Linked DNA regions of Homo sapiens. The protein of the gene in region 1 purifies or fractionates together with the protein of each later gene. This does not show direct contact. Each region holds a gene or a part of one and is shown in the gene's direction. Other genes may lie near its edges.

Evidence for each region. Proteins that work in one complex are often made in the same cells at the same time.
Region 2: the proteins of ATP8B2 (region 1) and CLCC1 fractionate together in Homo sapiens (co-fractionation; one large-scale study listed by BioGRID). This does not show direct contact.

Annotation. Positions count from the first base shown.
Region 1 is NC_000001.11:154,328,525-154,332,024, forward strand, and holds part of ATP8B2 (phospholipid-transporting ATPase ID), read left to right. Parts: intron 1-273; exon of another isoform or gene 274-463; coding exon of another isoform or gene 464-551; intron 552-1,871; coding exon 1,872-1,930; intron 1,931-2,290; coding exon 2,291-2,404; intron 2,405-2,523; coding exon 2,524-2,622; intron 2,623-2,919; coding exon 2,920-2,981; intron 2,982-3,081; coding exon 3,082-3,154; intron 3,155-3,429; coding exon 3,430-3,500. UniProt on the Homo sapiens protein: Catalytic component of P4-ATPase flippase complex, which catalyzes the hydrolysis of ATP coupled to the transport of phosphatidylcholine (PC) from the outer to the inner leaflet of the plasma membrane.
Region 2 is NC_000001.11:108,929,005-108,932,484, reverse strand, and holds the end of CLCC1 (chloride channel CLIC-like protein 1 isoform 1 precursor), read left to right. Parts: 3' UTR 1-2,544; coding exon of another isoform or gene 2,545-2,784; 3' UTR 2,785-2,980; downstream 2,981-3,480. Other genes in the region: GPSM2 (G-protein-signaling modulator 2), read right to left, coding at 2,545-2,784. UniProt on the Homo sapiens protein: Anion-selective channel with Ca(2+)-dependent and voltage-independent gating. Permeable to small monovalent anions with selectivity for bromide > chloride > nitrate > fluoride.

The DNA of each region.
Region 1 (3,500 bases):
GGTTTTTCCGCGGGCGGGGGTGTGTGTGTGTGAAAGCGGTTGCCCCCGACAACGCCGGCAGTCCGCTCACCCGCATTGGCCCGGCCCGGGGGTGGGAGGGGAGGCGGGGCTCGCGCGCGAGCTTTCGCCTACGCGGCGCGCTGGCAGGCTGCGGCTCCTGCAGTCGGGGAGCGGGCGGGGGCGGAACCCTGGGCGTGCTCGGCGTGTCCGGGGCCACTCAGCGCACGCTGGCATCCGCCGGGGGGCATGGGGGGCGGCGGCGGCGGCGCAGCTGAGCTCGCGGTGTCCCCGAGCGCCGGCGGCCGGGAGGATGGCCTGGGCTGCGGGTGGGGCGCGCGCCCGACGGCTGGGGCTCCCCTCTGAGCGGCTGCGGCTCCTGCACCTCCCCGGGGAGCCGCCCCGTCGATGCCACTAAGGCCAAGGACATATAGACGGTCTGCCCTCCCCCACTCAAACCGGGATCATGACGGTCCCCAAGGAGATGCCCGAGAAGTGGGCCCGGGCCCAGGCGCCTCCCTCTTGGAGCCGAAAGAAGCCCTCTTGGGGGACAGGTAACGGGAGGCAGCGCCTGGCAGCTCTCCCGCACCCATTATTTCCCCCCTCCAATCCCTACATTCACTTGTCCCCAGCCTCCCCCTACCTGCCTTGATCCTCTTTCCAGACCCAGAGATCCTGGCTCCGAAGGATCCAGTCCCTACCTTCTTCGTTTGCATGGTCTTTGGTGATTGCGCAGGGGACTTGGCCCAAGAGAGCCCCTCTAGGGAAGTTTATGGGAGTGAAGTGGCTTGGTAGGCAGGGGGCACTGTGGCCTGGGTTTTGTTACTGCAGTGTGCTCTGCAGGGGTCCTGGGGTGTGTAGAAAGGGTTCTGGAATGCTGTCTTTGGCTCCCGGACAGGCTTAAGGCATTAGGTTTGCTGCCTAACCAAGTTACCCCTTTTTGCAGCATGAGGTCATGGTGACCCCCGGGGAGACGGGCTGGGGAATCTATTATAGGACAGCTCCTTGTTCTGGGACATGAATTTGATGCCTGCAGTCCCAGACCTGCAGAGGTTTCAGATAGGTTTAGCTAGATAGGTGTCACTAACTGAGTGACAGATGAGCCCTTTAAAGCTAAATGTGTGCAGATGGTACAAGGAAGGTCCAGTTAGAGAGCAACTGTTTCAATTACATTTCATTCCTCCCTCCTCTATCTCTATCTCAGTCTGCATGACCCATATCCCTGAAACGCACCCCCCACACCTTTTTCTACTTGAAGATGAGCTTTGAAATAAGGTGATGTCATTTCGGGCCAGTCAGAAGCAGTTGCTGGTGACATGTGACAACCAGAGGCTCCTGTAGGGGGGACTGCACATGGGGCTGGGATGCTCCCGCAGAGCAGCTCCAGGGCACAGGGAGCCTCCTTCTTGCCACCTACCCCACTCTCTAAATAAGGGAGAGAGCAGTACCGCGACTAGATCTGCAGTGGTCCCCAGGGGGAAGGAAGCTTTGCGTTTTCAGCGCTACTCCTTGATTATGACAATGTATGCATTAGTAATAGCAGCAAAAGGGGCTGGGGAATCCCAGGACTGTCAGTGGCTCAGATTCCTCTGGAGTGGGGGTGGGGGAGACAAACTGGGTGCTTCCAGTGGAAGACCTTGAAGTTTGGTGGTGAGGAAAAGAGAACATGTCCTGTCCTGTGAATGTAACCTGGAGAGCCGTGTGGTCAGGCTGCTGGTGAGAGGTGGACTGGAGGGAAGAATTTGATGACCCCCTCAGTTGTGGAGCTAACTCCTTAAAATGATATTCTGTGGAAAAAAACAGGGAACCCCCCAGCAAAGTGTTGGTCCAGACCTCAGTTTGCTCCTCCTGACTGCAGCATCATTTTGTTGCAGAAGAAGAAAGGAGGGCGCGGGCTAATGACCGAGAATACAATGAGAAATTCCAGTATGCGGTAAGCGACTCTAGACCACCTGTTCCCTCTCTCTGTTTGGAGAGGGGAATGGGGCAAGGACAACCTACCGTTGGGACTGAGGGCTGCCTGGGAAGAGTGCTTGGGGGAGGGGAAGCAACCTCCTCAGCCACTCTCCATCTGCTATCGTGCTGAATTTTTCATGCCTTCACCTGTCAGTGAAGCAGAATACATTGACCCCCTTGAGACTCCCTTCTCTCCTCCTCTTTCCCCCTCCCACACCTGTGTTTGCTAGCTTTTGGGGTAGAGGTCTGGGGAAGTATAAAGATGGGGGAGGCAGCCTCAGTCTGGTTCTGGGTTGGGACTGGAGACTGCTCATTATCTTCTCTCCTACTGCCATAGAGTAACTGCATCAAGACCTCCAAGTACAATATTCTCACCTTCCTGCCTGTCAACCTCTTTGAGCAGTTCCAGGAAGTTGCCAACACTTACTTCCTGTTCCTCCTCATTCTGCAGGTAGGTGACCCATAGTAGATTTTTTGCAGCTCCCCAAACTGAATAAAGCCAAGGAAGAGGAAAGGGAATGAAGGCATCAGATGGGGCCTCAGAGGCATACTTCTCTTTCTTTTTTTCAGTTGATCCCCCAGATCTCTTCCCTGTCCTGGTTCACCACCATTGTGCCTTTGGTTCTTGTCCTCACCATCACAGCTGTTAAAGATGCCACTGATGACTATGTGAGTGGTTTTCATTCTTCTATTTTGTCCCAGTCACCCACCCCTACTCCCAGCCCCACCCCCATCTCATGGCCACCTTCATCCAGCACAATTTCTTGGTGACCTTGACATCCCTTACCCGGTCCAGCTAGATCCATGATGTCTTTTTGCTGAGCGTGGGGAGAGGGAATCAGGGAGTGAACTGGTTTGTGATGGGGTGTGTATGAGGCGTTAACCAGCATGCTCTGAGTTCTACTGATCAACGAATTCCTTCGAGGCGGGGGAAGGTGTCTTACCTTTCAGTTTTCTTCTTTTCAGTTCCGCCACAAGAGCGATAACCAGGTGAATAACCGCCAGTCTCAGGTGCTGATCAATGGAATGTGAGTGCCTGTTGGAGACAAGAGCTCTGGGGACGAAGGGGGTCCCTTAGGAACCTCTTTAGCTCCTGACAGCCTCTTCACTGTCTTCTCGTTGCCTCAGCCTCCAGCAGGAGCAGTGGATGAATGTCTGTGTTGGTGATATTATCAAGCTAGAAAATAACCAGTTTGTGGCGGTAAGGGACAGGGTACCCCTCTAGGCCTGTAGGTTCTTCCTCTTCTTTGTGAGAAAAGGATGAATCTTTCCTGATTTACTGTTGCCTCTTAAACACCCGTGGCAGGAATCTTTCTCACACCAGGGGCTTCTGTGTCATGCTGATATGCCTGGAACTAGCCATTTATGCACCTGGAACTAAGCAAACCAAGAATGCTTAGTGGAAGGAGCCACCATTACAGCCCACTGGGGGTGGAGGTTTGCATATTTGGACTTCTCATTAGTTTTTCTCTCTAGGCGGATCTCCTCCTCCTTTCCAGCAGTGAGCCCCATGGGCTGTGTTACATAGAGACAGCAGAACTTGATGG
Region 2 (3,480 bases), about 45 Mb from region 1:
AAGTCTACTTTGACAGCTAGCAAGGCGACATGCAACTGTTGTTGAATGATGACAGCAATTCAGGAAAGACTTAAATATGAAAGCAAATTGAACACATCGGGTGTTTGTTATCAGAAAAGAGATGAGATGAGATAAGACTTGTTTATTGACTAGCCAATATGTCATTAAAATTAAGGTTTATATTGTGAAGCTTTTTTGAAATTTTACTTTTTTTTGAGAGTTTTGCTCTGTCACCCAGGCTGGAGTGAGGTGGTACAATCTCGGCTCACTGCAACCTCCACCTCCCAGGTTCAAGAGATTCTCCTGCCTCAGTCTCCCGAGTAGCTAGGATTACAGATGTGCATCACCATGCCTGGCTAATTTTTGTATTTTTTAGTAGAGATGGGGTTTCACCATGTTGGTCAGGCTGGTCTCGAACTCCTGACCTCAAGTGACCCGCCCTTGTCGGCCTCCCAAAGTGCTGGGATTACAGGCATGAGCCATTGTGCCCAGCCTATATAGTGTGAAGCTTTTAGGAAAATCAGAACAGGGTAGACAGCTGTTAAAAACAATGTTTAAATGGAATAATGTTGAATGTTTACAGGCTGTAAGAACTATTGTATACACAAAATAATACACAAAGTTTGTACTTTGTGTACAAATACAAATTTGTACTTTGTGTACAAATAATACAAAAAGTTTGTATACACAAACTTTTTACGTTGTGGTTTGGTATATTGTCTTAACTGAATTTTCTTATAAGAACCCCATGAAACTTACCTGAGTTTTTAAAATGCTATCCAGGACATCATACCTTATAGTATACATGAAACATAATGTAATCCAGGTTGTAATTTAGAACTTTTTTTTTTTTTTTAGCTGAGCACTTAATGTAATTAATTCCAGGTTATGACTCTTAAAAAACATTGGCCATTAGAGAAATAGTTCTATTTGCCCATCCAAATCACCTGAATGACTTTTTGAAAGAATAGGGGTCCACATCCCCAGATCCCATCCCAGCTGTGCACAGTCTGAAGCAAGCAGAGTGAAACAAGTTGGCAACTTGTTCCAAGCGTGGGCCTTTGCAGTCTGTGATCCAGTGTTACTCCAGGTCCCAGTCTGTCCCATACTTGTCTTTTGCTACAGTTAGTTAGTTACTTTGTTATCATCCCCTTGTAAACTGCCTTCAATATCTGGGATAAGGAAGACAAAGCTTAATGACAACTAAGGTTCTAGCTGACATCTTTCTTTCATATTTAATTTTTGTGAGTTTTCATCTGTTTTCTGTTTGTTTATGTGTCCTAGGTTCTTGACCTAACCACATGGGTTTTGTTTTTTGTTTTTATATTAGAACTTAGAAAAGTTTGTTTTACAGCAGTATTATGGAACAGAAGAGACCATTTTAAATAATTTTTTTAAACAGCCCAAAACACACAAAAGATACTTGTTTTCTAGAGACAGGGTCTTGCTCTGTCACCCAGGCTGGAGTGCAGTGGCACGATCATAGCTCAGTGCAGCCTCCACCTCCTGGGCTCAAGTGGTCCTCCTGCCTCAGCCTCTTAAGCAGTTGGGACTACAGGTGTGTGCCAGCATGCTTGCTGTTTTTTTTTTTTTTGAGACAGAGTCTTGCTCTGTCACTCAGGCTGGAGTCCAGTGGCTTGGTCTCAGCTCACTGCAATCTCTGCCTCCCAGGGGTTCAAGTGATTCTCCTGCCTCAGCCTCCCAAGTAGCTGAAACTACAGGCGCATGCCACCATGCCCAGCTAATTTTTGTATTTTTAGTAGAGACAGGGTTTCACTATGTTGGCCAGGCTGGTCTCAAACTCCCGACCTCAAGTGATCCGCCCGCTTCGGCCTCCCAAAGTGCTGGGATTACAGGTGTGAGCCACTGCGCCTGGCTGCTGATTTATTTTTCATAGACACGGGGGTCTATGTTGCCCAGGTTGGTCTTGAACTCCTAGCCTCAAGCGATCCTCCTGCCTCAGCCTCCCAATGTGCTGGGATTACAGGAATGAGCCACCATGCCCAGCCCAAGAAGTAGAGTTTCTTTTATACTGACTTTGGCCTAAAAAAACAGATTTTCATGGAGGAAAAAAAAACCTAGATTTTTAGTAAGACTATTTTATATACTTTTTTACATTGATCAAGTACATTATTTTTACCAAACAACATTGTTTCCCACTACATCCATGGTTATGTATAAAAAAACGCCATTGTCAATTAAGATGTTAAAAAATTATTTCCATAAGAGTATTAAATTCTAATCTATGATTCACTTAACTTCCTACTTTATAAACACTAGGTAAAGTAATCTCACAAGCTGCCAAAGAACACATCCCAAGCAGTAATCACAGACGATGAAGCACCTTACAGGACCCCTCCACCCTCAAACGCGCATGTCCAGAGAAGTATTAATGCCTTAATAGACTACTGAAGGTTAACTATTTACATCATTCTAAAAATATTTTAAGCTGTATTACAGTGCTATAAATTCTCCTTTTAAGGAAAAAAGTAATAGATTGTTTCCTTACCGTGTTTGAAAGGAAAAAAAATAAATCCATAGTAACTAATGGTCTGCCGATTTTTTCCCTGAATTTTTAAACTCCAACAAAGCATTATTTTGCAAAAAGTCCTTTAGCCCAAAGTCAGTGTCTCTGTTTTGATCTCTTTGTAAAAGAACTCTCTGTTCATCCATTCTCTTTCCCTGGGACCGTAAAATAAGGCTGAAAAAGTCTTCATCTGGTACTGTCGGACCCTTTGTGGTAGCAGGTGGTGGAGCACATCTTTGATCATCTAATCTGGATCCCTAGAAGTTTATGAGAGAGATTAAAAGACATACTGTGGGAAAGAAAGCACCAAGCTATGTTAAATCTCTCAGTCACAACAAGAAAACGCAGTTGTAAACTTTTATTTGGGGCTTCTCAGAAATTAATCTTTGTTTTTATATTGTTCTCTTTAGTTCCCAGCCTGATTTCTGAAAGAAATAATCTTTAAACCTGAAACTGCATAAAATTTTTCCTTTAAAATGGCTTATATAGGTATAGCTGCTTCATTGGTTTAGTACGTGCATTATGTTAAGTCATACTGTTTTAATTATAATTGGTCACAAGGATAAAAGACAAGGTCAACTGTATCTAAGTATGACAGTTCAAGGTTATAATCTAACAGGCATCAACTGTGTAACTTAACAAATCTTTAGAAATATGTACAAACCCCATGAGGAACTACCTTAAAAAAATCACGTCTTAGGCTAGGGGACAGCAAACTGTAACCCAGTGCCGGCTTCTGTAAATGAAGTCATTTTCATTTTCCCATCAATACATATGTTTATATACTATCTATATGGCTGCTTCCCTACTAAATGGCAGAGTTGGGCAGTTGCAATAGATACCATATGGGCGGCAAAGCCTAAAATATTTTCTATCTGGCCTTTTACAGAAAAAGTTTGCCTGCCTCTGTCTTAGGCTGTTAAATCTGTTAAGAAATAGCCCAGAATGAATTT